Homo sapiens: one gene and its partners. The protein of the gene in region 2 purifies or fractionates together with the protein of the main gene of each other region. This does not show direct contact. Each region holds a gene or a part of one and is shown on either strand. Other genes may lie near its edges.

Evidence for each region.
Region 1: the proteins of ZNF555 (region 2) and MTCL1 purify together in Homo sapiens (affinity purification with mass spectrometry; 2 studies listed by BioGRID and IntAct, with this or other methods). This does not show direct contact.
Region 3: the proteins of ZNF555 (region 2) and HERC1 purify together in Homo sapiens (affinity purification with mass spectrometry; 2 studies listed by BioGRID and IntAct, with this or other methods). This does not show direct contact.
Region 4: the proteins of ZNF555 (region 2) and MIGA1 purify together in Homo sapiens (affinity purification with mass spectrometry; 2 studies listed by BioGRID and IntAct, with this or other methods). This does not show direct contact.

The regions. Positions count from the first base shown.
Region 1 is NC_000018.10:8,820,037-8,827,653, reverse strand, and holds part of MTCL1 (microtubule cross-linking factor 1), read right to left. Parts: intron 6,188-7,617; coding exon 6,156-6,187; intron 3,484-6,155; coding exon of another isoform or gene 3,438-3,483; exon of another isoform or gene 3,296-3,437; intron 2,956-3,295; coding exon 1,422-2,955; intron 100-1,421; coding exon of another isoform or gene 44-99; intron 1-43. UniProt on the Homo sapiens protein: Microtubule-associated factor involved in the late phase of epithelial polarization and microtubule dynamics regulation.
Region 2 is NC_000019.10:2,836,241-2,844,665, forward strand, and holds the start of ZNF555 (zinc finger protein 555), read left to right. Parts: upstream 1-5,234; 5' UTR 5,235-5,332; coding exon 5,333-5,335; intron 5,336-5,919; exon of another isoform or gene 5,920-6,038; coding exon of another isoform or gene 6,039-6,047; intron 6,048-8,425. UniProt on the Homo sapiens protein: May be involved in transcriptional regulation.
Region 3 is NC_000015.10:63,655,805-63,663,421, forward strand, and holds part of HERC1 (probable E3 ubiquitin-protein ligase HERC1), read right to left. Parts: intron 7,401-7,617; coding exon 7,180-7,400; intron 6,218-7,179; coding exon 5,949-6,217; intron 5,222-5,948; coding exon 5,169-5,221; intron 4,133-5,168; coding exon 3,932-4,132; intron 2,930-3,931; coding exon of another isoform or gene 2,915-2,929; coding exon 2,740-2,914; intron 555-2,739; coding exon 284-554; intron 152-283; coding exon 1-151. UniProt on the Homo sapiens protein: Involved in membrane trafficking via some guanine nucleotide exchange factor (GEF) activity and its ability to bind clathrin. Acts as a GEF for Arf and Rab, by exchanging bound GDP for free GTP.
Region 4 is NC_000001.11:77,774,995-77,783,132, reverse strand, and holds the start of MIGA1 (mitoguardin 1), read right to left. Parts: upstream 3,485-8,138; 5' UTR 3,478-3,484; coding exon of another isoform or gene 3,397-3,477; intron 3,329-3,396; exon of another isoform or gene 2,941-3,328; intron 1-2,940. UniProt on the Homo sapiens protein: Regulator of mitochondrial fusion: acts by forming homo- and heterodimers at the mitochondrial outer membrane and facilitating the formation of PLD6/MitoPLD dimers. May act by regulating phospholipid metabolism via PLD6/MitoPLD.

The DNA of each region.
Region 1 (7,617 bases), on a different chromosome or scaffold from region 2:
GCACTCACATATAAACAGACCGTTCCACGGCAGGAGGACTTACCTGAGGACCCCAGAAGGATGGGGTAACAGTAGCCCAAAGAAGACACCATTTGTCACCTGAGAACATTCAACCAGCAGTTTGTCCTCAGAGCATGCAAACAACTTTATCACAAAGACTCAGATCTTGGAACATGTAGGCCATGTAGTATCAATATTTGTATTAGGTGTGAACCATATGGAATTGCCACTTCTGTAAGCCATTGGCAGTTCCACAGGTCTGACCTATTCAGATTTCAAGCCTGCATTCTGAGTTAAACATTCATTGGTGGGCCAGGCTGGGAAGACAGCCATCATTTACCCTCTTGTGGGAAACGTGGGCCAGGTGAAACAGGCAATACACCTTCCTCCTCTCCCTGCCCATGAAGCCAGGGCTGCTTGGGTCCTGGCGAGGAAGCAGCGGGCAGACCAGGAGCAAGCTGCCGTCCTCCTCCTCCTCTGACCCCCGCCATCTGCGGGAGCAGCCTGGCTCGGAGAGTGCTCATGGGGCCAGGTGTTCCCAGTGTGAAGCCTGTTCATCCGGACTCCTGGCGAGTTGGAATCACTCGCTGGACAGACACGTCCTCTCTGTGCTGCACGAACCACAAAGTGGCATCACCATAGCCATCACCACCAGCATCAACATCAGGCTTTCATTTTGCTCATTGTTGAAGTGGAAATGGGAAGCGTTTTGTAAAGTGGTGTACAAAAACACCACATGTGGATGTGCATCAGAACCCAATTCACAGTGGATTGATTTGTGAGTAATATCAAGGGCAATAATGATAATCATATTGTATTAGGGTAGGATTTTGATTTTGTCTATATGTTTCACTTGGTTTTACTGCTAGGGGGGCTCATGGCCACAAAGAGGGTAAGTGATTTGTGAGCTGCCAGATGGCTGTTTTGTAAGGAAGCCAGCCCAGGAATCGAGATCTTGTGGCTCCTGATGAGAAGTGCTCGTGCTCATGTGGTCCAGACCCTCTCCAGCTCACCTCATGCTGTCACATATGAAGGTCTGCAGTATGCAGCAAGCCTGACACAACTATCCCATAGTTTGTACATGTGCACGAATTCACACAGAAAGAAGGCAAACTGACCCCAAATAAAATGCCCTGATAAATAAGGATCAATCACTTAAGACTGGTGACAGAACCCAAATCAAACCATGTACTATATGATTTCCCAAGGACAATAAAATAACATTTTCTTCAAAAAAGTTGCTCAGGGCTTTTTCTGCCTATTCTATTCTCCCATAAACCTAACACCTCCCCAGCTCCCAATAACCAATCATGGACGATTCCTGAGATCAAATGACAGAGCACAATCCCAAGTCCCAACCTGCCCCACAGCTAAAGGGAAGAGCTGGTGGGGAAGGGTGTGGGGCACTCAGCATTCATTACCTCCATGGGCCCTGGCTCGGCTGTGTCCCCCAGCGAGTGGCTGTCACTGTGGAGACCCGGGGGCCCGTGGGCAGCCTGCCTCCTCTCCTCCTTTAAGGCATGTTCCAGCAGCTTCTTGTTGAGGATCCGGGCCACGTTCTCAGTGAGCGTGTAGCCAGGGGGAGCAGATAAGTCCTGCTTCACTGGCGTGCCCTCTCCCCCTTCCTCCCTGCACATCTCTGACCCCACCCCAATGGGGCTAGGCGACCTTCCTCGGGAATTGGTGCCTGTTTCCTGGCCTGGGCCCAGCTCTGGTCGGGGCTCTGCTGAGCGAGACCGACTGCCGGCCCGCAGCCCCTTCTGGAAGGGGTCCTGCACCACGGGGCTGTGGTCAATGATGTTGAAGAGGCTGGAGAGGCCATCATTAATGGTGGTGTGCACGGGGCTCTCCCTTGTGGTGGTGGAGCGGGCCCAGGCTGACTCACTGTACCCTTTCTGGGCCATCCCTGGTGACGTCCTGTTATTTGGCTGGTCGGCTTTGGGGAGGGGCTTCCTCTGCAGCTTGGGAGAACCATACTTGGGGGAGCAGCATGTGCGTTCAAACTTGGCCTGCACCTTCTCGATGGCAGGGGCCACCTGTCTGCTCCTAAGGCTCCGGGAAGGAGACGACACGGGTGTAGCACCGCCCCCAGCCTTTGGAGTGAGACACTTGTGGGGGCTGCTGGTGACACCGCTGCCACGCAGGGCTTCAGTCTGCAAGCCCACACTGATGGTCTGAACAGTCTGGGTCCCCATCGTCCGGGACCCATTGGTCTGGCAGGCCATGTCCTTGACTTGCAGCTCGCCAGGGCCGGAGCAGATGGCATTCCTGACAGAGAAGGCCACCTCCTTCATGTCATCACTCAAGTTCTTGGACATCTCCAGGCTGTGCAGTGGGGAGGCAAACCCCAGGGAGGTACAGAGGGGACTATCAAGGGGGCGCCGTGCCCCCTCCACATAGTCCCGGGAGTGCCTGGGGGAGGTGCAAGGCCACCTGCTGAGCATGGGTTCTGGAGGGCCTCCCTTGGTGTCTCCCGGGCTCCCTCTGGCTCTGCTTGTGGGAAAGGGACCCTCACCACCTGCCGCCGTGATGCTGTCGACCCTGCGCACGGCAGGCGGGCTGTGTAACACGCGCAACCCCGACTGCTCGGTGAGGACGTGGCTCCGCAGTGGCTGCTTCTGGCAGTGCTCTGGGCTGGTCATGGTGTCCGTGGTCATGGTGACACTTGTGGTTAGGTACCAGGAGGAGTCGGGGAAAGGCTCTGTGCTGTCCTCGTGCCCTGCCCGCCCCACCTCGGTCCTGTCGGCCCAAAGGTCCGGCCCCCCACCATTGTGGCCCCTGTTGGGTGTGTAGTCCCAGCTCTTGTTGAACTCCTCGATGTACTTGAGGTCGTCTGGAGACAGGGGTGGGGTGACATCCTCCTTGCTGCTGGTGGACGGCAGGCCCTTCTCAGGCAGGAAGGGGGAGATGTCCATTAGACGCTGGAACTCAGACATGGAGGACACGGACACCGCCCTGGGAAAAGCAGAAAAGAGGGTGTCAGTACCTGCCAGGGAGCCTCTGACACACCACAACACCCATGTCCTGCCCTGCATGAGAAGTGTCAGTGAAGGCACCCGCTGCCACCCACACCAGGAGAACACTGTCAGCTGCTCATGTGCTGCACTCACAGACTTACCCTGCGGGCATTTATTGGACTCTGCGTGGCTCTGGAATTGTTCCTGAAGCCTTGCATTGGTCAGAATTTAATACAACCAACTCTGGCTCACACCCGTAATCCCAACACTTTGGGAGGCCAAGACAGGAGAATCACTTGAGGCCTCAGTGCCTCAGTGAGAATTCTCAGGAGACTCACTCGGACCACAGCTGAAGGGTGAAGACGGTGAGCCACGGCGATGGCCAGGTTTTGGCAAGCTGCCACCTGATGGACACAGATTTGGTGTGGATTCTTCCATGTGTTAGCACTTTCAATTTGCCATGAGTTCGCTGAATGCCTCTCACATGCCTGGCAGGTGCTGCAGGGGTGCCAGCAATGCTTCCAGGCTAAGACAGAAAGTGGCCGGAGTGCTCGGGCACGACTACCACCAGGGCAAAGAAGTGGTGGTCAGGAACGGGGCTGGGGCTGCCTGTGCCTGCTGGCTCAGGCAACAGAACCTCTTTGGCCTGGAATCCCTCCAGCTGGGGTGGGATGGGGCGATGAGGTGTCTGTAGACTCACTGTCCAGATTCTTACAGGACATACTGATACTCCTTTCACCCCACAAAGCACAGGCTTAAACCTAGGGATCTAGACTAGTGCAGGCCCTGTGGAAGGGGTCCCAGATTGAGTGTATGGACCACTCCTCCATAGGACCTATTAATGATGATGAGGCCAGAATTGGGGTCTGCTCTGAGCAAGTCCCTGTACCGTGTGCGCTGGTACACAGAACCAGCAAAGCTCTGGGCAGCTTTGCTGACAGCTGGCTTCACCTTGGGGGCAAGGCACCCGTCCATGTGGTCAGCACCACGGGGTAAAACAGCAGGCTAAAAGTGACATCGTTAGGCATTCCATCTTGTTATCTTTTTGTTGTTAGAAATAATCTACAAACTGTCCAGTGGTGCTTTGAATAACCACAAGCTGGCTATATCCAGTGCCGGAAAGGAAGGGCAATGGTAGGGATGGGTTGATTTGTCCCAAGGTCATGAGCTTTCCAGCAAGTATGAATTTCCCTCTTCTCAATTCAAGGAGTTGCTGAATTAATGATGAGTTTCAGAACACTGTTCGCTGGGGACTGTAAGTGCCGGACACATGCCAACACCCTGGTCCTTTCCACATTTCTGTGGACATAGCTCATCTAACTCCCACTTTTGCCCACAGAGGAACTGTCTCAGAGTTAAATCAGTGGCACCTACCTGGGTGGGAACTCAGTGCCTCTGGGGCATGGATGGATATGGTGGAACAGAGATGATAAAGACAGAGAAAGCAGAGGCATTAACCTCAGCAGTGGCCAAAGCAAACAAAACCATGATGAGAAAACCCGGGATACATCTGGAGCATGTGTAGGCGCTTGCAGGTGGAACGAAGAGAGTATGGTGGAAACATACCGGGCAGTCAGAATCAGAGGACATGGGGACAGTGGGGAGGGCGCATCCAGTTTCCACTTTGGATATTTTGAGACTATCTATCTATCTATCTATCTTTTTTTTTTTTTGAGACGGAGTCTTACTCTGTCGCCCAGGATGTAGTGCAGTGGCGCAATCTCGGTTCACTGCAACCTCCGCCTCCCGGGTTCGGTCAATTTTCCTGCCTCAGCCAATATTTACATTTTATAACAAGCATGTGTTACTTTTGAAAGCATAAAAGTTGATGGCTTGAGTGGTGAAGTACAGTTGCTCCAAAGCCTAACCGGAAACACTGATGTGGCTGCTGCTGTGAACGGGGAAGGTGGGAGGGTGTAATGACTAAACTCTGTTTACTGTTTGTTTTGTGCCATGTGCTGCTTTCATTATGTGTATTAACATACATAAGCTGCAAAAAAAAAAGATAATCAAAATACGTCCTGTATACAGATGAGGAAACTGAGGCACAAAGCAGTTGAGTAACCTACCCAAGGAGGCAGAAGCGATTCAAACCCAGGCAGTTTGGGCTGGGCACAGTGGCTCACGCCTGTAATCCCAGCACTTCGGGAGGCTGAGGCGGGTGGATCACCTGAGGTCAGGAATTCGAGACCAGCCTGGCCAACATGGCGAAACTCTGTTTCTATTAAAAGACAAAAATTAGCCGGGTATGGTGGGGTTTGCCTGTAATCCCAGCTACTTGGGAGGCTGATGCAGAATTGCTTGAACCCAGGGGGCAGAGGTTGCAGTGAGCCAAGATTGTGCCACTGTACTCCAGCCTGGGAGACAGAGCGAGACTCCATTTCAAAAATCAACCAACCAACCAACCAACCAACCAACCCAGGCAGTTTGGCTCTAGAGCCTGAGCTCTCAAGTACTGTCCTGTACCACCCAAGAAAGACCAGAGAAGACAGCGTGAAGGACAGAAGTGTGCCACAGGCATGGCTAGGTGCTGCAGAGATCTGGCAGGGAGCAAATGGGAAGAGGACAGTCATTCACAGACTCGAAGTTCAGAGGAAAATCAAGGATGAGGCGATCTGGAAATGCTGAATTGCCTGAGAAGAAATTTCATGTAGTAGAAACGGTATGTATTCATTTGGAGAATGATGAAAAAGTAAAACTGGAGGAAATTAAACTGGGGAGGAAAAAACTGGTGTGTAACTAACAACCACATCAACCACTATATATCTTCTTCAAGGACTACTGCCAGAAAATATTTTAATAAATTCTCTTAGTGGAGCTTTTAAATACAGTGTATAAAGCATCTCACAGCATACAAAAGAGAGTTTTCCCAGACTTTAAATGAGAAAAGAGAGGTTTCCATGGACCTTTCAAAAACCACTCAACACAAGCATTCCTTTGTATACATAACACAACAACAACTGGAAAGTCCTTACCATAAAACTCATACACATGTGACACAGCACGTCTAACTTCTTTGTTAATAATCAAAAATACCATGTTTATGAAATGAATAATAAAGCAGCCACTTCTTCAGAAGTGGCATAATTTTAAGTCATTTTGAAGAGAGTGGTAAAATAGACTGCATTGACAAAACAACATTTTAAGACCAAGACATTTTTATTCTAGTAATCTATTATTTTCATCAATCTTACTTACCTTTGAAGATTTCCTTTGTGATTTTCTTCTTCCTATAAAGAAGAAATAACTTCATCTGAATCGGTTAATTTTGGTTGTCCAGAAGCCCTGAATGTACTTAAGTGATTTGTTTGCTCTGCACCCCCAGGAAACCACCATTTAAAATGTGCACTGAGGCCAAGCTCTGGTTAGGAGTGCTACTGCCCTGAGGCCTTTAAAGTACAATCATCAAAGCGAGTCCACAGCATGATGAGGGGCTGGAGCTTCTGTAGTCCAGGGAGAAGCCCACATGAGTGAGAACAACTGGCTATAAACTTTGTCATGGAGGAGGTGGCTCTTCTGTGCTTCCTCAAAGGACCTCACTGACTACATGAATTTCAAAGCGGGATTTGTAACAACCTAAGTGTGAGAGTGAGACTGAGAGAGAGAGAGAGAGTGTGCATGTGTTATGTTAGAGAGAAAGATGGAAGGTGATAGAGTAACGTTAGTGGTCCCGATCTTGCTGTAGAAGTTGGCGTGACATCCTTAGACTCGGGCACTTGGTTGGTTTTAAACATTCCCATTTAGAATCAGAGGCAAAGTACAGTGCCTTCCCCTTTAAGAAGAATGATAGCTGTGTTTGTAGAGAACGGCATAAACACGAGGTTGTCTGCTGAGAAAACACTCTTGTGCTGATGTGGTTTTGAAGCAGCAAGACTCTGACTAACAGTAAGGGAAGCATATTTTTCAAGACAGTAAATAGCAAGGGGTACCCTTCCCCTTAATGAGCATGCCCCTTGTCTCTGCCATGCAGGGTCCAGTGGGCTGGAACCCACGCACAGGCTCCTGACCCCACCCCACGTTACCTCTACTATGTAATCGGACTGTATAAGATTGCCAATAGATCAGACAGGGTGGGACTGTGGCAATGTCCTATCAACCTGGTACACATTGCTGAGGATAAGGCATTTGACCTTACTGATGTGGGTGAAATATAATTTCTGCATACTTCAATAACACTATTTGATATGAACTCTTCTAAGTCTTGAGTGTTTAGGAGACCAAATGATAGGTGCAGCAACTGTTGAACTGCTTCACAGGTAATGAGTCCTAGAATCAACTTTTTTTTTTTGGATGGAGTCTTGCTCTGTCGCCCAGGCTGGAGTGCAGTGGCGCGATCTTGGCTCACTACAAGCTCCGCCTCCTGGGTTCACGCCATTCTCCTGCCTCAGTCTCCCAAGTAGCTGGGACTACAGGCACCCGCCACCACGCCTGGCTAATTTTTTTGTATTTTTAGTAGAGACAGGGTTTCACCGTGTTAGCCAGGATGGTCTCGATCTCCTGACCTCGTGATCCGCCCACCTCGGCCTCCCAAAGTGCTGGGATTACAGGCATGAGCCACCACATCCGGCCCTAGAACAACTTTTAAAACAAGGTTTTAAAAATATTAAAACCAGAAAAACATAACTAACGCTGTGCCATGGAAATGTCTACAGCTTAGCTC
Region 2 (8,425 bases):
GGGATTACGGGCGTGAGCCACTGTGCTGGGATTACGGGCGCGAGCCACTGTGCTGGGATTACAGGTGTGAGCCACCCTGCTGGGATTATGGGTGCGAGCCGCCGTGCTGGGATTACAGGTGTGAACCACTGCTCCTGGCCTTTATTTCAGCATTCTGTTTCAGTGTTTCACATTGGCCACTTAGCTAGATCCGTTTGTCTTCTGCAGTACTGTGCTGATCCAGAGTATATGCTAAGACGGAAAGCGCTTTGGAGGTAAAGTTTAAAAAATACAAGGGCTTCAAAATAGTACTAGTAATTTGATCCATTCACAAAAGGACAAAGGCTGGACAGAGACGTGAAGAAATGAATCATTTACGCAATGATTGGGGTGTTCCAATTATGTGTGATTTTGTGTTTTCTGCCGTTTCATTTTGTATTGCCATAATCATTTTGACAATGAATACAAATCAAATAGCACCCAAAATTGTGAAGGATACGGAACCTCATTGATGAGTCAGGATAGACTGTGGGTACCTAGATGGTAGAGACATAGTATAGTAGACTTTGGGACATAGAGGGTGGAATGACCTTTGGTGGCCTGGGAAAAGTCCCGCCTGTGAGATGTCCCTAGCAAAATCAAGACCAGGAGTGCTGATGTGCATTATCGTCATGAACATGTATTGGATGCTTACTGTATACCAAGCACCAGCCAAGTACTTCCATGTGGTTCTTCATTTAGCCCTCACGACCCCATGAGATAATCACTATTCACATTCCATTTTACAGAAGACAAAACGGAAATAATTTGCTCAAGGTCACACAATTAGAAAGGAGTAGAATCTGGGCTGGGCACAGTGGCTCACACCTGTGATCCCAGCACTTTGAGAGGCTGAGGTGGGTGGATCACTTGAGGTCAGGAGTTCGAGACCAGCCTGGCCAACATGGTGAAGCCCCATGTCTACCAAAAAATACAAAAATTAGGGAGGCCGAGATGGGCGGATCACCTGAGGTCAGGAGTTCGAGACCAGCCTGACCAACATGGAGAAACCGCATCTCTACTAAACATACAAAATTAGCCGGCATGGTGGTGCATGCCCGTAATCCCAGCTACTCGGAGGCTGAGGCAGGAGAATCGCTTGAACCCGGGAGGTGGAGGTTGCTGTGAGCTGGGACAGTACCATTACACTCCAGCTCTGGGCAACAAGAGTGAAACTCTGTCTCAAAAAAAAAAAAAAAAAAAAATCTGGGCGTCGTGGTGCACGCCTCTAGGCCCAGCTATTCAGGAGGCTGTGGCATGAGAATAGCTGATGTTTCAGTGAGCCGAGATGGTGCCATTGCACTCTAGCCTGGGTGACAGTGAGACTCTGTCTCAAAAAAAAAAAAAAAAAGTAGTGGACTCTGGATTTGACCTTGAGCACCCTGTACAAAGCCACACCTCATTTGCCAGGCCACCAAGCAGGGGAACTGTTTTCCAAATGTTCTCTTGGAAAGCTGGGTGTAGTGGCTCACAACTGCAATCCCAGTATTTTGGGAGCCTGAGGTGGGAGGATCACTTGAGCCCAGGTGTTCAAAACCAGCCTGGGCAACATTGACCCTGTCTCTGCAAAAAATACAAACATTAGCCAGGCATGGTGGCTCACGCCTGTAGTCCCAGCTACTCTGGGGGCTGAGGTGGAAGGACCGCTTGAGCCCAGGAGGCTGAGGCTGCAGTGAGCTATGAGCATACCACCGCACTGCAGCCTGAGTGACAAAGCAAGACCCTGTCTCAAAAAAATTTTACAAATTTTCTCTTAGGACTCATCTAACTTTCCTGTGAATGTTCCCTTTTTCCTTGAGCTAATGAGGGAGGTTGCCCGTCAGATCTCCTTTCACCCAAATGGAACATGTTGCTTTTCCTTAGAGATCCTTGATCCATGGTCAGTCTAGACCCTATTGGGTTGATGAGTAAGTTTCTTTAGGGGCTCTGTGAACAACTTTGAGAACAACTTTGTGTGCTGGTGCATTGATGTGTTTTTTGGGGAAAGCATCTGTAACTTCCAGCATATTCTTGAGAAGGGTTGACTTAGAAGTCTCCTGACTGTACTGTTTTCAGTCTTGTTATCTCCCTCCAGCAATTATATTTTATTTTTTGAGATGGAGTCTCACTGTGTTGCCCAGGCAGGAGTGCAATGGTGAGATTTCGGCTCACTGCAACCTCTGCCTCTGGGTTCAAGCGATTCTCCTGCCTCAGCTCCCAAGCAGCTGGGACTACAGGCATGCGCCACCACGCCCGGCTAATTTTTTTTGTATTTTTATTAGAGATGGGGCTTTCACCATGTTGGCCAGGCTGGTCTCAAACTCCTCACCTCAGGTTGTCCACCCACCTCAGCCTCCCAAAGTGCTGGGATTAGAGGCGTGAGCCACCGAGCCCGGGCACACTATTTTTAACTGGAAGCTGCTTTCCTATGTCAGTCCTCTAAACATTAATTTTTATAAAAGTGTGTAAAACCTTCCTAGGAAAGATAAAAATAAATTTTAAAAATTGTTTCTAAATGAAATGTCAATATCAGAATTTGAACAACCACTTAAGCTATGGAGTTTTCTGAAATGAATAACCATTAACTGTGTTTGGTTTTCAGCCCCTGTCTATTAAGTGTATTCAGTGTTTTCAGGCCTATCACAATCGTTTTTCCTTTTTTTAAAAAAAATTGAAGGCTGGGTGTGGTGGCTCACACCTGTAATCCAAGCACTTTGCAAGTCCGAGGCAGGTGGATCACCTGAGGTCAAGAGTTTGAGACCAGCCTGGCCAACATGGTGAAACCTCATCTCTACTAAAAAAATAAAAATTAGTAGGCCAGGCGTGGTGGCTCACACCTGTAATCCCAGCACTTTGGGAGGCCGAGGCGGGTGGATCACATAAGGTTGGGAGTTCGAGACCAGCCCGACCACCACGGAGAAACCCCGTCTCTACTAAAAATACAAAATTAGCCAGGCATGATGGCAGGTGCCTGTAGTCCCAGCTACTCGGGAAGCTGAACCAGGAGAATCGCTTGAACCTGGGAGGCAGAGGTTGCAGTGAGCCGAGATCTCGCCATTGCACTCCAGCCTGGGCAACAAGAGCGAAACTGCGTCTCAAAAAAACAAAAAACAAAAAAATTAGCTGGGTGTGGCGGGGCAGGTCTGTAGTCTCACCTACTCGGAAGGCTGAGGTACGATAATCACTTGAACCCGGGAGGTGGAGTTTACAGTGAGTCGGGATCCTGCCATTGCACTCCAGCCTGGGTGACAGAGCAAGACTGAAAAAACCAAAAATTTAAAAAAAAAACACTTCCCTCCTAAGGTTCAATCCAATTCATTTAAACTTTTGCGTGTTTTTCTTATATCAGTTAAAATAGGGATTCAATATCCTTAGAAATATAGCCTTTTCTGTTTTAAATATAACATCTAAAAATTGTAGTAAAATACAAATAACAAATATTTACCATGTTCATCATTTTTAAGTCTAAAGTTCAGTGGCGTTAGATACGTTCCTGTTGTGCAATATTATAGACTTCCTTTTTTTTTTTTTTTTTTTTTTGAGACGGAGTCTTGCTGTGTCCCCCAGGCTGGAGTGCAGTGGAATGATCTTGACTCACTGCAACCTCTGCCTCCCTGGGTTCAAGCGATTCTTTTTGTTTTTGTTGTTGTTGTTTGTTTGTTTGTTTGTTTTTGAGACGGAGTCTCGCTTTGTCACCCAGGCTGGAGTGGTGGAGTGCAGTGGCGCGATCTCGGCTCACTGCAACCTCTGCCTCCCGGGTTCACGCCATTCTCCCGCCTCAGCCTCCCGAGTAGCTGGGACTACAGGCACCCGCCACCAGGCCTGGCTAATTTTTTTGTATTTTTTAGTAGAGACGGGGTTTCACCGTGTTAGCCAGGATGGTCTCGATCTCCTGACCTCGTGATCCGCCCGCCTCGGCCTCCCAAAGTGCTGGGATTACAGGCGTGAGCCACCGTGCCCGGCCTCAAGCGATTCTCTTGCCTCAGCCTCCCTAGCTGGGATTACAGGTGCGCGCCACCACGCCCGGCTAATTTTGTATTTTTAGTAGAGACAGGGTTTTGCCATGTTGGGCAGGCTGGTCTTGAACTCCTGACCTCAGGTGATCCGCCCGCCTCGGCCTCCCAAAGTGCTGGGATTACAGGCGTGAGCCACAGCGCCCGGCCAGCTTTTCAATCTTCCAAATTTTGGGGGGATGTACTTAAAAAAATGATCTGAAAACATTTTCCTTAGAGTTTAAAATATGAACTTGAGAGTTTTTTTGTTTTTTAATATGGAGTCTCACTCTGTCGCCCAGGCTAGACTGCAGTGGGGCGATCTCGGGTCACTACAACCTCCACCTCTCGGGTTCAAGCAATTCTCCTGCCCCAGCATCCCCAGTAGCTGAGATTACAGGCGCCCGGCACCACGCCGGGCTGATTTCTGTATTTTTAGTAGAGAAAGGGTTTCACCATATTGGCCACGATGGTCTCAAACTCCTGAACTCAGATGATCCGTCCACCTCGGTCTCCCAAAGTGCTGGGATTACAGGCGTGAGCCACTGCGCCCAGCCAAATGTGAGGGTTTTAATGAACATCTCATATCTTCTGGTTGATTTGAGCAAAGCTCCTGCCCCCTGCCAGGCTTTGGGTTCGGCCTCCCCCAGACCGGGTCTCCGGATTCGCAGCCCCCTGGGCGGGGTCTCCATGTCGCCCGCAGCGCGATGACGTCACGTCTGCGGGTCCCGCCCCCACGTAGGTCTCGGCCCTTCGGACCCGGCGCCCAGCCCCCGTTCGCCCTGCCAGGCCCGGGCCGCCCGCTTGCATCCACCTCCTGTCCGGACAAGGGGTCGCCTCGTGAGGAAACTAGTCTGGAGTTCCCACGCCCGTCCCGGAGGAGGACGCGGGCGGGGCGCCCGAACTGCGGGGAGAGGGCGATTCCGCCCCGGGCTGAAACCAGTTCGCCCAGAAGCCAGTGTCCCCGCAGGGCGGGACAGCCACGCGTGTTCGCAACGCTCCCGTCACTCACCGGCAGGGGGTGGGCCCTAGGGAACTACCCAGTCAGGACGGGCGGGGGCGGGGCCGAGACAAGTATCCAATGAGGGACGCCCAATCGGAATCCGGGGAACTGCCCAATTTACAGCGCCAGGGGACGGACTGGGGAATTCTCCAATCAGAGTCGCCGACGTTGGCAGCACTGTCCAATCAGAAGCGCGGCTTCCCGAGCTCTGTCTAATCAGGCCCCTGGGACGGGACGCCTCTGTCCTAGCCGTGAGTGCCCCGCCTGCCCCTAGCGGTCCCTGGCGTCCCGGTTCCTGTCGCGCTCACCTGCGCCGGTAGCGAAGAAATCGCCCCGGGACATGGTGAGTGTGGCGCAGGAGAGGATCCCGGTGCGGGGCAGCAGGAACCGGCGACCGCCCGAGACCGCGGCTTGGGGGGAGCTGAGGGACGCGGGGGGCGGCCCCGGCGAGGGCGGCGCAGGACGGGAGCCTGGGCCCCGGGGGTCCCGCCCGGCCCCGCCTCCCGCGCTGAGGTCGCGGCTAGGGCGCTCCGAGCTCCGGGTCCCCGCCCGCCTCTGGCCCCAAGGCTGCAGAGCGGGGAGCGGCGCCCGGAGCCCGACTCCGTCCCCGTCGTCCCGGGGTCCCCGCGTCCCTGCGCTCCCGACCCCCCACGCCCCGCCCGGGGCCGCGACGCCTCGGAGCGTTTCGCTGCGGCTTCGGGACCCCCGGGCCGCGGGAGGCAGAGTCGCCCGAGACCCCGAGGTGCGGTCCAGGCTCCCCCGGGACCCGCCCTGGGGCCGACGCCGCGGTGCCTCCTGGGGTGCGGGTCCCTGGTCGGTGCCGCCTCCGCTCGCGCTCCCGCGGCTCAGCTCCTTGGAGGCCCCGCGCCTCCGGCCGCGGTCTCTGGGGGACCCTGGGTTCCTCCCGGGACAGCCCGGGAGCGGTGGGGCCTCGGCGGGGGCGGAGACGCCCCCACCTGCAAAGGCAGCCCCTGGGGCGTGCGAGGTTTCCTCCCCTGAGTCCCGGTTTTCCTTCTTGAGGACTTCTTGTCCCCTCTGACCCCAAGATGCCTGGGGTAGGTAAGGGGAAAAAAAACAAGGGTTCCTGGTCCCTGGGCTCTCACACACAAGGAAGAAAAGTAACTGAAAAGACTAGAGAAACAAGGGAGAGCGAGGACCCCAAAAGCAAACGCACGCAGACCCACAGCGGGGACGCCCGGGAGGCTGGTGCATTAGTGTCCTCGGACTGCTGTAGCAACTGACTGCAAACGAGGGGGCTAAAACCACGGAAATATATTCTTTCACGGTTCCCTAGAAAGTGTGGATTTGAAGACGTTTCTCAGTTCTGTTTTGAGTACTAGCAATGGGATTCCTTGCTGAGGCAACACCTGAGTTGGGGGTGGGAGGGCGTCCGTCGTGGTAGCCTGGCCAGACTTGACCCCTCCCTGGGTTTGTCACTGTGAAAAGATTTTCCTTTTTTCGAGTCAGCAGTTTTTAGGAAGTGAAACGTACATTTAATTAGTAGAAGTTGGAAGATAAAATATTTCCAGGCCGGGCGCGGTGGCTCAAGCCTGTCATCCCAGCACTGTGACAGGCCGAGGGGAGCAGATTACTTGAGGTCAGGAGTTGGGGACCAGCCTGGCCAACATGGAGAAACCCCGTCTCTGCTAGAAATACAAAAATTAGCTGGGCGTGGTGGCGGGTGCCTGTAGTCCCAGCTACTCGGGAGGCTGAGGCGGGAAAATCACTTGAACGCAGAAGGCGGAGGTTGCGGTGAGCTGAGAACGCGCCATTGCACTCCAGCCTGGGTGACAGAGCGAGACTCCGTCTCAAAAAAAAAAAAAAACTTCCAACGGGGTGAATTTCAGGAAAAAAATTAAAATCTGTGTCTTACATTCCATTTGTTAAACATTCCCTGGAGTGTGTGTCGTTTCTCAGATCTGTTATTTTCTGTTTTCTTTTATTACTATTATTTTTTTGGGAGCTCTGTTGCCCATGCTGGAGTGCACTGGTGCGATCACAGCTCACTGCAGCCTCCACCTCCTGGGCTCAAGCAATCTTCCTGCCTCAGCCTTCTGAACACAGGGACTCCAGGTGTGTGCCGCCATGCCTAAGCTTTTGTATTTTTTTGTTTCTAGGGATGGGGTCTCATTCTGTTACCCAGGCTGGTCTCGAACTCCTGAGCTCAGGTGATTCTCCCTCCTCGACCAGCCTTGTTCTTTTCTTTTGAATGACAATAAATAGGATTCCAGGGCCTAAACTTCAAAATGTTACTGGGGAGAAGAGTCTCAGAGAAACAGAGAAAATCTCCTTTCCACCATACGTGCAGAAAAATGAATACATTGCCACGAAACATGTTGCAGATAAATTATACAAATTTACCAAAATATGTTATTCTCCTTGACATGGTAGAGAATTTTTGACGGTGGATGATTCTGTTCTGCTTCCAATACTGCAGTACCCTTACCTTAATTCTATAATACATTTTTTGTTGTTCCTGAAATAGGTAGAATACAAGATATTTTTCTTGTTTAGATGACAATTTGTCCCAGCTCCTTATATTAAAGTGTTTATCCTCTGCAATGCCGGCCCTGGCACTGATCAGATTTCCCCGAACACAGGGGCTGCCTCAGGGCTGTGTCCCTTTACTTTGTTTTTTTGTTTTGTTTTGTTTTGAGACAGGGTCTCGCTCTATTGCCCAGGCTAGAATGCAGTGGTGCTGTCTCGGCTCATTGCAATCTCTGCCTACTGGGTTCAAGTGATTCTCCTGCCTCAGCCTCTAAAGTAGCTGGGACTGTAGGCACCTGCTACCATGCCTGCCTAATCTATCTTTCTTTTCTTTTCTTTTTTTTCTTTCTCCCTCTTTCCTTTCTCTCTCTCTCTTTTCTTTTTTTTTTTTTTTTTTTTAAAGAGGGAGTTTCACCCTTTTCGCCCAGGCTGGAGTGCAGTGGCAGGAACTTGGCTCACTGCAATCTCTGCCTCCTGTGTTCAAGCAATTCTCCTGCCTCAGCCTCCTGAGTAGCTGGGATTACAGGCATCCGCCACCACGCCCAGCTAATTTTTGTATTTTTAGTAGAAATGGGCTTTCACCACATTGGCCAGGCTGGTCTCGAACTCCTGACCTCAGTTGATCTGCCCGCCTCAGCCTCCCAAAGTGCTGGGATTACAGGCGGGAGCCACTGCACCTGGCCATTTTTATGTATTTCTAGCAGATACAGGGTTTTGCCATGTTGGCCAGGCTGGTCTCGAACTCCTGACCTCAGGTGGCCCGCCCGCCTCAGCCTCCCCGAGTGCTGGAATTATAGGTGTGAACCACCATGCCCCCAACCAGGGTGTTTTAAAATTGGCGGCTGGTCACAGAGGTCCCCTGTGCCTGGCTGTGCCAAGATTTCAGACACCCAGGAGGAAAGCAGATCTTTAGGGTAAACACATTGTTGCATAAACAGTTTCAGCA
Region 3 (7,617 bases), on a different chromosome or scaffold from region 2:
ATGCCACAAGGGCCTGTGTTACAACAAAGTTTGGGGAGGTCACAAGCTTGTTCTCTTCAGCAATTCCTCGGAGAAAGCTGGGTAGAAACTTTCGCTGAATTGAGTCATCAACTGTGGTTAGATTTACACCTGTTGCAGCAGAAATCAAGTTCTGAAGAAGCAATTGGAAAAACAGACTTAATTTTTACATGTAATTTTGGAACAAAAATATTTCATTTCAAAAGGCTCAAGAATCAGTCAGAAATAATCAATGTAACGGGGAAAAGTACTGAAAGTAGCTTACCTGTGTACACAACTGTACAAGCAGTTTGGCAGCACTAGGAGCATTTGATGCCAGACATCCCACTGCTGTGCTCAAATAGGCCAGGCAAGAGATAGGCTTGTTAGCCTTGCTATGCCCACCTCGTGATCGTTCTGAGGTGCTAGCCATGGCAGAAGGGCTGGTGGAGAGGCCAGCTCTCCCTGCTGCTGCCAAGCACATTAATCGAACTAGCGTTCGGATATCTGTTAGCCCCAGAGACTCAAGACCAGCAGCCAGGCTACAACTGGAACCACTGCCAGTAAAGAAAAACATCTCAGATGGATAAAGAAAATGGATTTCTTAAGGGACCATTTGCAGTCCCACATAACATTCACAGCATCAACAACCATAATAAAATGTAAGCTGCACTATCATTAGCCATACATGTCCTAAGAGTTGCCAAAGGTATCAAGCTGGAAACTGGCATCTAAACGTTCTCTCCTTTTAATAAGTATTGGCATATACTTGAAGTACAATTGAACTGACAAAGTAAAACAGGAATGTTCACAAAGCATAAATTTTCATAAGCTGAACAAACCCATGTCACCGCCCTCCAGATCAAGAAACAGAACATTGCCAGTACCTCAGAAACCTGCTTTGGGCTTTTCTCAGTCACGATGCTCTCAGAAGTAACCACTATCCTGACTTCTAAAGCTACAAGTTAGTTTTGCCTGTTTTTGAACTTTACATCAATTGAATAATTAATATATGTACTCTTTTGTGTCTGGCTTCTTCAATATTATGTTTGTAAGATTCATCCAAATCTTGTAGCATTGAGCAGTTCGTTTTCATTGACATATACATGAAATCTGCCACAGTTCATTTATCCCTACAGATGACAATCAGGCGGTTTCCAACATGGGGCTATTATGAATAGTACTACCATGAATGATTGGTCTTTAGGGGGCACATATTTAAGTATTTCTGTTGGATATATACCCAGAAGTGGATCTCTGGGTCACAGAGTATGTTCCTGTTCAGTTTTAGTTGATACTATCGAACAGTTTTCCAAAGTGGTTATACCAATTCATTTTCTCACTAACAATGTATGGGAGTTTTAGCTGTTTCAGTCACTTTTTTCTCTCTAGTGTTTTAAATGTTTGCCATTCTTGTGGGTGTGCAATGGTATCTCATTGGTGGGTTTTTTGTCTTAGGTTTTTTTTTTTTTTTTTTTGAGACAGGGTCTCACTATGTTTCCCAGGCTGGTCTCAAACTCCTGGCTCAAGGGTTCTTCCCGTCTTGGCCTCCCAATCACACTGGATTTTAATTTTCATTTCTCTGAAGACTCACTGAGGTTGAACATCTTTTCATGTTTATTGGCCATTTGGAGATCCTCTTTTGTGAAACACTTCTTAATGTGTTTTGTCCACTTTCTTCTGGGTTGTCTTTTTCTTGTTAATTTATAGGAATTCTTTACACATTCTGTTGGTTAGATGCATTACTAATATCTTCTCCCATTCTATGGCTTGCTTTTTTACTTTCTTACTTTTCAAATCACTTTTGCTAAACAGAGGTTTTCTATTTTATTGTATTCCAATTTATCAATCTTTTATGGCAGATTCCTTTTGTGACTTGCTTGAGGAATTTTTGCTTGTCCCAAGACCAAGAAGCAATTCTTCTATGTTACCTTCAATAAACTTTATTGATTTATTTTTCTTTTATATTTAGATCTAATAGCCACTTTATAACTATTTGCTTTATATAGTTTGAGGTTGGGACCAAGGCTTTTTTTTTCTATGTGGATAAACCATCAGACCCTGCTTCAGTTACTGAAAAAAACAGCCTTTCTCTATTGCTCTACAGTGTGAACCACTGTCATAAATCAAACCATAAATCAAGTGTTTATTTATATGTATGGGTCAGTTTCTTAACTCTCTTCTGTACTATCCTATTTGCCTATCCTTGAGCCAATAGCACACAGTCTTATGGAAATTTTGTTTTTCTTTCAGGATCTTTCTGCCTTCACTGATTTGCCATTAAATACTCCTGCTTAATCACTTCTTAAACAGCTGTCTTTTAGGTATTTCTGGTTCTCATCCCCTTTTTACATTACACTCCACAGTATCAACACGGCAAGGATCCCCATGATGGCATCTGCAGGCTGACTTAGCTACACAGACGGTCAATACATTTTGACCTTTAGTTTTTGATCCAGCACCATTGGGATCAACAGCCTTAGTTTCCCATTTCAAGCAACAAAATAAAATGTATGCAGTTTACTCAGTTGTGATAATGGCATTATTTTCTACCTAAAAAGAGCCAAGTATTAACTGAATGACCGATTGAGTGAATAACAATGACTACGTCTAACATCTTTCATTCAACAGTACATATTCAAGCTTCTAAAATTCTATCTCACCCTCCCAAACACCACCAGACTTCCAGCTAATGTACACTAGAAGTTAACTTAGCATCATGTGACATAAAATAACACTTACCTGACTGAGAGAAGAGACAGCGCTCTCATGACCATGGTTCTGGCCAGAAGAACCTGAGCAGCAGCAGTCACTCTCCTTAAAGCCACCACACGGTCATGAGGGTTTGCTAGGGCAGCTGCCTGCTCTCCTAACGTTATTCTCCCAGAGGAGCTCTTTTCTACGGAGCCATGGCAACCTGAAAAACATAATTCTGTTTTGTTCTCAACAAGGTAAGAAAAAAATACATCTGAACTACTAAAAACATTTCCTATTCTACAGAGGTTCCATAACAAACCAATGTCTTTTGCTCATCTGGAACTTGGTTATACAGAAAATTTCTTAGGAGAAACTCACATATTTCTAAGTTTGAACTTGGATATTTCTAACTTAGATATTTCTATGTTAACAATGTATTTACCATAGGAGTATTTATACTTAATTTACCAGTAAGTATTTTCTGTTTTGTTCATTTTGCCCATGTATCACATCTACTGATTATAAGTGCTTTGAGAATTTATAAAGGACTGAATTACCAATACTGCCCAATTCTTTATTTTGTATTCCCTATACCAAAAATTTACCACACCCTCTCACCCAAATAAAAAGAAGACTGCACAATAATTTTAAGTTGGTTACAGGATTCTCTTAACACCAAGTTTTTTTTTAAATAACAAGTTCTATAAATCTTTTTATTGCTTCGGTATCATGAAAGACAAAAAAAAATCAAAACATTTATTTTTTCCTCTTGAGACAGGGTCTGGTTCTGTCACCCAGGCTGGAGTGCAGTGGCTCAATCATCACTCACCATAACCTCAAACTCCTGGGATTAAACAATTTTTCTGCCTCAGCCTCCTGAGTAGCTGGGACTAAAGGTGCACACCACCCACCCAGCTACTTTTCTTCATTTTTTTAATAGAAATGGGTCTCACCATGTTGCCCAGCCTGGTCTTGAACTGCTGGCCTCAAGCGACCTTCTTTCTTCAGCCTTCCAAAGTGCTGGGATTACGAGCATAAGCCACCAAGCCCAGCCAAAACTTAATACCACATTATACCTTCAAAATGTTAAAACAACTGGCTAAAGAGACTTGTTGGGGTGAGATAATGTTGAACCATTAGTCTTATTTACTTTTACTTTATTATTATTATTTACCTATCTAAGAAACAAATTATAGTAGATGCTATAAAATCAATGCAAATCAGGATTTCAGTTTACCTATTTGCATCAGAGTCTCTTCCATACTGTTGGTGGCTGTGACCATTGCTACTGATGCTCCCAGTGGATCGCTGTCAGGGAACTGAACTGGTTCTGGTACAATGCGCCGGTCATTTAAACCAAGCGGTCCAGCAAGTAATTCAAATTCTTCTTCACCAGTTAGCTTTTCATCTTCATCAACATCCAACATGTCCCAGTCTTCTGGAATTTAAATAAATAAATGTATAGTATGTGAATTTAAATATTACATAAATCTGCTGGCAATGGTTGTTCTGAAAATACATCTAAAATGCAGATGAGCAGCCAGATGCGATGGCTCACGCCTGTAATCCCAACACTCTGGGAGGCCGAGGCGACTGGATCACATGAGGTCAGGAATTTGAGACCAGCCTGGCCAACATGATGAAACCCCATCCCCACCAAAAAATACAAAAATTAGCCAGGCATGGTGGTGTGTGCCTGTAATCCCAGCTACTCAGGAGGCTGAGACCGGAGAATTGCTTGAACCTGGGAGGCCGTGGCTGCAGTAAGCTGAGATCACGCCACAGCACTACAGCCTGGACAACAGAGTGAGACTCCATCTCAAAGAAATAAAAACAATAAATAAATAAATAAATACATACATACATAAAATGCAGATGGACTGAAAGTCCAGTGACCACATAATGAACTATGGCACCATCTCCTGAAAACTTAACCAAACTGCACTCCTGAAGCATAAGTGAGACTCTCAGGGAAAGGGAGTCAATGTAGTTAAATAAGTTGACAGCAATAGCAAATGCTACAGCTGGTAATAGAGGTTTAAACTAATTAAAAATATTGTCATGGGTCCAACAAAGAGTTCTTAGCTGTCTGTAATCATTAGGGAATGAGTTATTTCAAGAAAATGAGTGCTCCAGAAAAATCAATGCTCATCTCTATTTATTTTTTACTTTCCACAATTAGGGTGGAAATTCAAAATATACCACATCCTTTCCCTACTTTGAAAAAAAAATACACCTAATAGAAATTAATATTCTGTGGTAAAGTTGGTCTTTGAAACCACGTTCTTTTCCTTTGACTTTTAAACCAGCGTTGTTGCTATTAAATTCCCTTGAGTTTTTAAGGGAAAATTTAAGTTAACATGTACACAAATACAAACACACACACACACGAAGGTGAATTTTAGTAACAGATGTTAAGCAGAGAGGATATATAAAAAAACATGTAAAATAAAGAAGCTCTCAAAACAAACTACCTTCATACACACTGTCTTGCTTGCCAATTAGATCTGGAGCTTGTCCCTTGTACCTGCACCAAACATGAAGAACATTGCATTTTTATATAAAACAGTTAGTACCCCAAGATGCAAATTAAGTCATTAGAACATTTTAAGAGGTCATTAATAAAGCAGCACAAAATAAAAAAGTATGTTTCATGTTATAGGCTAACATAATAAAAACTGCTGGTATGTAGGTACACACATGCTTACAAAATCAATGATTATTTTACCAAACTACTGGGGAGATTTCTGGGTTACCTAAAACAACTCTTTTAACCAAATTCTATTCCATAAAGCCTTAAAGATTTTAATAGTTGACAATTAAGGGCAACAAACCTACTCTCTAGGGATTAAGGATGTAAAGAGATAATATTTTTATGGAACTCGTTTAATCAAAAGTCTGTTTTTTTCATCAGGAAAAAGATCTTAATTAAAATGCCAGAAATATGGTAGAAAATACAAATGAAAAGAATTGAGTAGAAGCCTCCTGAGGGTTAAGGCAAGGGTCCTGACCATTACTTGCCAACAAGTCAGAGGTTAACACAGTCAAACTCCAGGGAAGGATATGTTGCTATGCCATTATTCCTGGGAACATGAATTTCTGAAACCCCTCCATCCCTTCTGCCCAAAGTGTAAGAATCACGGGATTTCAGGGAAGGTTAAATGTAACTCCTCACGTGAAAAATCTACAGTTCCCAAGACTTAAGGTATGAGGTATCTTCAGGAGGTCTGGATATCTACACAATTTCAAGGTACCTTTCAGAACTTGTTGACTTAGATTTGGTCTTCATGGCTAAGTACTTCTCCCTGCAGGTGCCACATAACAGGTAGTACGGATTTCCACTCCCACATTCACCGCCAAACCAGCCATCCACATAGGAACCATTGCTGCGATAGCCCTGGCGGTTTGCACTGCGCCCACAGCCTGGATGGTTTCTCTTCATGTGCTGATTGAAGCTGACGACGCTGCATTCACACAGTTCACACACCACCACTTCTTCCCTGTCTTCAGACTCACAAACATGCTGCACAAAAGGATTTCATACCAAATGATTAGTCAATTTAACATAAAACCAAGAAGTACCAAGTAGATTATTTATATTAAATTACTTTATTACATATGCTAGAATATTTCCAACATGTTCATTAATGCTAAATAAAAAATTTCTTTCAAATCAGAATTCAGATAACACAATCGGAAGGTGTTCTTTGCCCTCTCTCACTCTAATAAGTTATATCAATAATACAAGTAACTGAGTATCCTACTGAGAAGAGTTAATGAACATGACAATCTGTCCTATCTCAAAATGAGGCTTTTTAAAAAAAAAACTCCACTAGTGAAAAGAACTAATTTTCATCTGGTCACAAAATGCATACCTACTTTATGAATTTTTGGGAAAAATCATTATGATTCACTTATTTATATAGCAGATTCTCTTTCCTGTAGGACTTACATCTATGAGCTTTTTGGTCTCCCTACTACAAAAATGTAATGCTAACCAATGTATATACAAATCCACCATGTACCTTGCCCCTAAATGGAGGTATTTACAAGATCTAGGTGAGCACTGGTTCCTAGAATAAGGCATTACATTGATTAAATGGAACCTATGAAGGAGAAGAACATGCATTCAGATAGCAATGTGAGCACAGCAGCCATGTTATATAACCTGTCAACGTCTACTGGAACCTGATGCTTGTTTTGTAATTTATCTTTGACATCAGAATCAAATATTACCACAGTATGACTCTATTCATCTTGTCTGGGGAGAGAAACAATAAAATCCCACAGAGAAAGCAAGAGAGACTTTTCCTTATTAGTTTGTAGGTATCAAAGTAACCTCATAACTTTAAATCCCCAAACCTCAGGATGAGATAAAAGACTTTTTAGAGTGTTTCAACTCTAGGCAAGGCTGCTGTTAGTAAGCTATATGAACAGGAGGGCAGGAAAATAAGTCAGAGCAGCCCCCGCTGCAGTCACACACACCCAGGTAGGCCAATCCAGTACCTCTGGGATCCACATTCCCAGAATATCATTGTCACTGGTCAGGTCTTGTCCAAACATAGCTTCCATCGCCTCATCATCAAGATCAATTTCCAATTCCTCATCTAAATTAAAGTCATACAACGCCCCTGGGTCTTGCTGCAAAGATATTCCTTCTCTCCGACTTTGATTCCTGTGGGCCTGCACAGAGCGGTATAATCCCGCTCAGAACAAAACAAAAAAGGCATTTTATTTGCATGCATAAAATAATTCTGAATATTTCGCCAGTTCTTAACTGCCATACATGTAGGTGAGAACCTATCTCAGTTGTCTTATTGGATCTCAGACCATAAAACATCAAATTATACCTATCACGTGTGTTTCCTCTCTTGCAAAAGGGGATAATAATAGCACTCATATCTCACTGGGTTATTGATAGGT
Region 4 (8,138 bases), on a different chromosome or scaffold from region 2:
TCAATTATTGATGACATTACACTTGAGCTAAAATTATATTTATTAATCACCAAACGCGTAAAAGAAACAATAAGCTATCCTTCCTGTAGGAGATAGCATAAAAAATAAGAAGTTAAAAAAAAAAAAAAGCTAGATTTAAACTTTGAGTCCGGGTAGCAAATTTTCCTTAGGAAATTGCGAGTTCTAGATTCTCTCTTTTCTGGTTACATAAAAATTTAACACTTTTTAGGGAGTAATTTAAAATTTACTTCTCATTCATTTGGTTTCCTTCATATAACTGCGGGGGTGAGAGTAGGTGGCAGGCAGGTTGCTGAATGGAATCTGGAACAGAATCTTGGGGCTAGAACCTCAGAGTTCACTGACTGAACTCCAGAACTCACGCATTTATTCTCCTATTGTCTCATTTTAAAGATCTTCAAAGAAATGCCACATATATGCTATATGATTTTGGTATAGTTTTAATGCGTATTATTTCTCTTAAACAAAAAAAGAAAAGTCAGATGAGTACAGAGAAGCAGTTGACACACAAAGAGAGGTCATTAAGGCAGTGGTTCAGGGTCTGGGTCTCTGCTTTATAGAGCCAGAAACGTAATTTTACCACTGTACCCAGTTGAACACATGTTAAACAAATTTACATGGTATTGATGCATAAATCACTTTACAAGTTTATCTATTTATAATAAAGAAATAAACGATCTAGTGTACATATTCTATCAAAACATACCATCCCTGAAATAAAAGACCATAGGAAGCTGAACTAATAAGTCAAAAATGTTGCCTGATGAGTGCAAAAATCAAGAGTCCTGAGGAATATTTCATTCAGGCCAAGAAAACGCCTAAGCATTATCTCTAATGCACAAGAGAATGGGCTTCTCTAATAACCACAATGTTTATGTCTACCAAATTTATTATTTCTTTTATTTGGGTAGTGCTGTATATTACATAACAGAATATAAAAATTACCAGCAATCCCTCTATAAAAGTTTATTTGCGGCTGGGCACAGTGAGTGGCTCATGCCTGAGCACTTTGGGAGTGACTTTGGGAGGCCGAGATGGGTGGATTGCTTGAGTCCATGAACCCAGGAGTTCGAGACCAGCCTGGGAAACATGGTGAAACCCTGCCTACACCAAAAAAAAAAAAAATTATTTGCTACACTTTTTTAGGCCCTTCATTTCTGCATACATTTCTATGTTCTCTTTTTCTATACTCCAATAGACTATCCCCTTCTGTTAATACCCACCTGTTTTCAGACAAGTGTCAAAACCACTGATTAAGTAGTGGTTTCCTTTAAAATCAAACACAGCAATACCTCTTAGGGTGGGTTACTACTACTGATGCTTCCCTTAATCCTTACTAGGGATACAGCAGTATAAACTTAATCCCCCCTACCAGTGTTCTAAGTACAACTTTTAGATTCAGTATAGTTAGTTCTACTTGACATACATTTATTTCAGTCAACAACCTGTGATAGAGACATATGATTAAAAAGTACAGAGGAAACCATGAACAGTTAAGAAAGTGAAAAATGGTCCTCTGGAGAATAAGACAAGGGATATAGAAAAGCTGGGCAAAGAATGACTGCTTTTCCTTATAAGTCTGTTTGTAATACTTGATTTTTAAAAACCTGCCTACATGTATTACTTTTTTAATATTACTACAGTAAAAAGGAAGTGGGGGGAAGCTCATTTATTCTTCCCCCTCCCTAAATATTAACACATTTTATTTTGAGAAACATTTTTACTAATTAGATTCTGGATCATTAAGCAATCTATGCTACTGCATTTAAAAAACGTATTGAGTAATTCACCCAAAGTAATTTTCCCTATAATGGAGCATTCCAAATTTTTAAGCAGAATAGAAAGAAAATAAAGCAAACACTTTAATTGGCTGCAGAGATATTCTTAAAAGATTATGACAAACCTCGGCCAGGCGTGGTGGCTCACGCCTGTAATCCCAGCATTTTGGGAGGCCGAGGTGGGTGGATCAGTTGAGGTCAAGAGTTCAAGACCAGCCTGGCCAATATAGCGAAACCCCATCTCTACTACAAATACAAAAAAATTAGCCAGGAGTGATGTCGGGCGCCTGTAATCCCAGCTACTCGGAAGGCTGAGGTAGGAGAACTTCTAGAACCCTAGGGGCGGAGGTTGCAGTGAGCAGAGATCACGCCATTGCACTCCAGCCTGGGCGACAGAGCCAGACTCCGCCTCAAAAAAAAAAAAAAAAGAAAAAAGAAAAAATATTATGACAAACCTCTATTTTTGCATTCTAACTACCTCATTCTTTTTCATTTAATATTACTGAGGAAGTTGATTCCAAACCTAATCATTATTCATTGAAAAACTAAAGAAAAAAAAACAAAAAACTAGTCATTTCATTTGCTTTCAGAAGCATAATAAAAATAAACATGAAGGGGGTTTCATGATTATTCAAATTTATAGACGGAATCTATAAAACATAACCAAAAATATTGTCCTGTGTGATATTACTTGCTCCTCTACATTCCAACTACTGGGGAATTAAAAATAAGTGTCATAAACAGTTTCTTAGACATCTTAAAATTCTATCCTGCAACTTTGACTTTATAATCCAACAGGAAGGAAAGTCTGAAGTATCAAAAAGAAAATTGACGTGAAGCACAAATCTATATAACCTAACTCTGACACTTTGAACAGAGCAAACATGTTTAGCTGCAATAACAACAACAATAAAACAACAATAATAAAGGTTTCAAAGTCCTGTGCAAAAACAAGCTGAGTCTTCCCTCTGGAAAATAGATAATTTAACAACTTTACAGAAGGACCTGACACCACAATACTCCCGTGCTAAATTATTCTCTTAAAGCACCTGCAAAGCAGAGTAATCTTTCACATCCAAAAGCCACTCCCTGCTCAAAACCACCCGCATCCAAGCCGAACCTGAGACCTCACCAGCTGCCCTACCTCCAGCGCGCTCTCCCCCGACCCCACAGCAGCCCCTCGCGGAGCTCTCCTCTGCTGTCTTCCTTTTTCTTTGCCAAGAACACCAGAAAAGGGGGTCCCTCCAGCTCGGCCGTCCAGACCCTTCCTCTGGCTCAGAGCAGTGGCGAGCCCATCCCAATTCCGCGCTTCCTTTGCAGGCCTCCCTCTGGCGTGGGGACCCTCCTGCTTTCCTATGCAAGTACTAACCAGGCCCGACCCTGCTTAGCTTCTGAGATGAGACGAGGTCGGGGGTGTTCAGGGTGGCACGGCCGTAGACCCTCTGGCTTTCCGCCGCTCCACCTGGCACTCCGAGAGCTAACGCCAGCGATGGAGTCCGCGCCACCCCTGCCCCGAGGCCTCTGCCCCAACTGCGTGGCCGCTCAACTCTCCGCTTCCTCCCGCCCGCCTCTCCACCCCACCCCGCCCCTGGCCCTGTACCTGGAGCTCCAGGCCAGGTACAGCTGGCCTGCCCACGCCAGCTTCCCAGCTGATGCCTGGCGCTGAGCAGCAGTCTGACATGGAGAAGGCGGAGTCCTTCCGGGGTCAGGAGTGCGAAGGTGGAGAGAAAGTGGAGGGGGCCTTCCAGGCTTTCTGCGTGAGGGACTACGTGTGAAGCAGCTCCCGCCATTTTTGTTTAGGGTAGAGGCTCCTTCCTCGTCAAGTGGATGCAAAAACTATATTCGAAGAATTGCATCCTTTTACAAACCGGTAAAAAAAAAAAAAAAAAACTAGTATTGTAGTTCGTAACCTGTCGGGGGATCTAGAACGGTTGTCAATCTGGTAAAAATTATGGAGGGTTTCCCCTGGAAAAAAAAAAATGTGTATACACATGCTCATTACATTAAAGAAAAAAAAGTTACACAATTTCAAAACCCTGAAAACAAGATTAAGAACTTCTACCACAGGCCCTCAGCCCTCAGATGAATGAGTGTTAAGAGGCATTCCAATCCGGTATAGATGATGCATTTATTATTGATTTCATGTCCTCTTTACCTTTTTTTCTGTGTTTCCCACTGAATTAGGCAACCGAAGAATATTGAATGTGGCAATTTATTGGCAGAGTAGTCACCTCTCTCAGGTTCTAATACATAGTAAACTAATAGGGGGCCGGGTTAGGAAAAAATAACAACAACAAAACCCAAGGTACTGTTTCTACGTTCAGTCTTCAGTCAAAACATTCCATCAGAACTGCAGATTTAGGCGGGGCACGGTGGCTGAAGCCTGTAATCCCAGCACTTTGGCGGGCCAAGGCGGGCAGATCACTTGAGGTCAGGAGTTCAAGACCAGCCTGGCCAACATGGCGAAACCCCATCTCTACTAAAAGTACAAAAATTAGCCAGGCACCTGCCTGTAATCCCAGCTACTCGGGAGGCTGAGGCAGGAAAATCGCTTGAACCCGGGAGGCGGAGGTTGTGTGAGCCCAGATAGTGCTACTGCACCCCAACCTGGGTGACTAGAGTGAGACTCTGTCTCAAAACAAAAAACAAAACAAAACAAAACAAAACAAAAAAACTGCAGATTTAAGAATTCCAGTTGCTGAGCATATTTGTGGTGAAAAGCCAAAATAATTCTGTTTTCAAAATTCCCATTTAACCAAATGGAAAATAGAATAGTAGTACCAATTTATGATATTATTAGATTAATAATAACTAACGATCCACAGACTGGGTTTTATGTGAAAATATTTTGCACTTATAGGGTAAATGGAGCTCTTGAGACTTGAAGAACCTGAAATTTGTAAGGCTATTTTCATTTATTTTCCCAATTTCCTCCTCTTTCCCATTTCCCACAGCTTCCAAACATTCAACGTAATGAGAATAGCAGTAATGATGATGACTACCACTCAACACAACTTTCCTGAGACCATATTATCTCCTTAATTCCACAATAAACATTATGAGAAAAATAGTATTACACGGTGGGTACAGAGTTTATTCTTTAGCATGAGAATAAGATATGTCACATTTAGGCCAAGTGAGGTGGCTCACATCTGTAATCCCAACACTTTGTGGGGCCGATGAGGGAGGATCCCTTGAGGTAAGAAGTTCGAGATTAGCCTGGGCAATAGCAAGACCCTCATTTCTACAAAATAATAATAAAATATATAAAATAGAAATATCACATTTAATTTATGTTTATAAACCAAATGTAATTTGCTGTAAGCCTCCCTTCTTCTGGTTTGGCAGAGTACTGCACTCAATCTTAGCCATTATTGGATATATTAGTTAACATATTCGCTACAAGTAAAAGAAAACCAAACAAGTAGTGGTTTAAACCAGAAGGACAGGGGACTCAATGTCTTCTGATATTGGAGACAAGGAAAAAAAAATTGGAGCCTGGATTAATTCTGAAGGCCAGTACCTCCCCCAGATAACCAAGCCATCGTGTAATGCTCACTAAACCAGAGAATGGAGTTCATGGAGTACTACCAGTTGTTTCTTCTGTACAAGTACTGCAATACATGCTACAGCAACCATTAATGAATTTAGGGGATCCTATCTGCATAATATCAAAACAAAACTGTGAAGTCAGACTGCCTGGGTTTGAATCCTTTCTTGGCCACTTACTAGATGCATTGTTAAAGGAAAAGAAACACAAAGCTATTTTTCTGTAGTTTCAACACTTCTGACTCCAAATGTGTGGAGGTTTTTCCCCACCAAACAAGTCTCCAATTATTTCTTATTATAAACTCCACTCTTTAATTTAGTGTCTACCAACTGGGTGTTGTACAGTTAAATTTAATTCAATACTATGCACCAAACCCTTAAGGGCTCAGTCCTACAAGACTGCCCCCACTTCAGATACCAATTGCAAATCCCAGGTTGTCACTTGTACTTCTGACCAACCAGCTATAAATCAGGAATTCCCACAATCTTCTCCTCCCATCCCAAACCAGTCTATTGATTTATAACAGAAGATATTACAAAGGATACAGATGAACAGCCGGATGAAGAGGTACATAAAACAAGATCTGGAAGGATCCTAAGTGCAGGAACTTCTGTCCCCATGGAATCAGGGTGTATGACCTTTTTGGGATATGGATGTGTTCACCAACTCAGAAGCTCTTAGAACCCCGTACTTCAGGGATTTCTGTGGAGGCTTCATAATGTTGTTACCAGAAAGGGGTACCAATCCAGATCCCAAGAGAGGGTGCTTGGATTTCGCACAAGAAAGAATTCAGGGCAAGTCCACAGTCCAAAGCAAAAGCAAGTTTAAGACAGTGAAGTGGTGAATGTCCACTTACTCTATAGACAGAGTAGGGCGTTCCCAAAAGGAAGAAGAGGAATGCATCCACTCTAGGTACAATATTCATTTATAGAGGAGTTAAAAAAAAAAAGATCATGGGAAGATGTGCTCTGCTACGAGGGTTTGTGGTAAAAGATTAATTTTCTTAATTACCATATTTTGCAAGAATTAATATTATTATCTTTAAAGCAAAATTAGGAATGCTTTTGCTCTCAAGGTATCAGGGACATCAGGACACTCCCAAGTCTGGGTCTGTTTAGTAAACATTATCAATCTGTTCCCTTAACTGTAAATGTTTAGAAGCTAGAAATGCCTAACTTTCTGGGAATGCAGCCCAGCAAGTCCCAGCCTCATTTTCCTAGCCCGCACTCAAAACGGAGTCGCTCTGGTTTGAACCCTCTGACAATGTAACCATAATTGATTATTAACTCAATCTTCAACTACTCTCTCCTCCACAGAGGATAGGGTAGGTATGGGGCCAACATTTTTAAGCTTCTAATCATAGCTTGAATTTGCTGGTGACCAGCCCCTATCCTGAAGCTATCCAGGAGCCCAACAAGAATATTAGAAAAAAAGACACTCCTATCAACCGGGAAATTCCAAGAGATTTAGGAGCTCTGTGTCAGGACTGGGGACAGAGAGCAAATATATATCTTTTCTTTCTTTGTTTCTTTTCCTTCTGTCTGTCTCGTTTGCCTGCCTGCCTGCCCGCCCGCCTTCCTTCCTTCCTTCCTTCCTTCCTTCCTTCCTTCCTTCCTTCTTTCTTTCTTTGTCTCTTTCTCTCTTTCTTTCTTTCTTGCTTTGATACAGGATCTCACTTTATTGCCCAGGCTGCACTGAAGTAGTGTGATCATAGCTCACTGCAGCCTAGAACTCCTGGGCTCAAGTGATCTTCCTGCTTCAGTCTTCTGAGTGGCCAGGACTACAGGCACTTGCCACCATGCCCAGTTAATTTTTAAAATTTTAGTAGAGACAATGTCTCCCTATGTTGCCAGGGCCTGGTCTCAAACTCCTGGGCTCAAGTGATCCTCCCACCTCAGCCTCCCAAAATGTTGGGATTATAGGTGTGAGACACAGTGCCTGGCCCAAATATGTATTTTTTATGTCACAGTGGTCTTCAGCAAGGTACTTACCCTTTTCATGTCTCAATTTCCTCCTGGCATGTTAGAAAGACAAATATAGGCCTGGCACTGTGGCTCACACCTGGAGGCCGAGGTGAGCAGATCATTTGAGGTTAGGAGCTCGAGACCAGTCTGGTCAACATGGTGAAACCCCATCTGTACTAAAAATACAAAATTAGCCAGATGTGGTGGTGCGTGCCTGTAATTCCAGCTACTCGGGAGGCTGAGGTAGGAGAATCGTTTGAATCCAGGAGGCAGAGGTTGCAGTGAGCCAAGATCACGCCGCTGCTCTCCAGCCTAGGCAACAGAGCAGGACTCTGTCTCAAAAAATAAAAAGAAAAAGAAAGACAAATATAGTAATGCTTAGAAAGAACTAAGAATCTTATGGAAAATTTTTTTTTTTTGGAGACGAAGTCTCGCTCTGTTGCCCAGGGTGGAATGCAGTGGCACGATCTCGGCTCACTGCGACCTCCACCTCCCGGGTTCAAGCAATTCTCCTGCCTCAGCCTCCCAAGTAGCTGAGACTACAGGCGCATGCTGCCATGCCAAGCTAATTTTTTGTATTTTAGTAGAGACAGGGTTTCACTGTGTTGCCTGAGCTGTTCTCAGACTCCTGAACTCAGGCAGTACGCCTGCCTTGGCCTCCCAAAATGCTAGGATTACAGGTGTGAGCCAACGCACCCAGCTCTTATGGAAATTTTTCACTTGAGTACTTGGACCTCCATAGGATCCAAGGAGGCAACTGTATTTCAATATAGTTGGTTTGCCTTGTAATCCCATGTATTTGTTTTATGCACATAGAAGCATTACTTT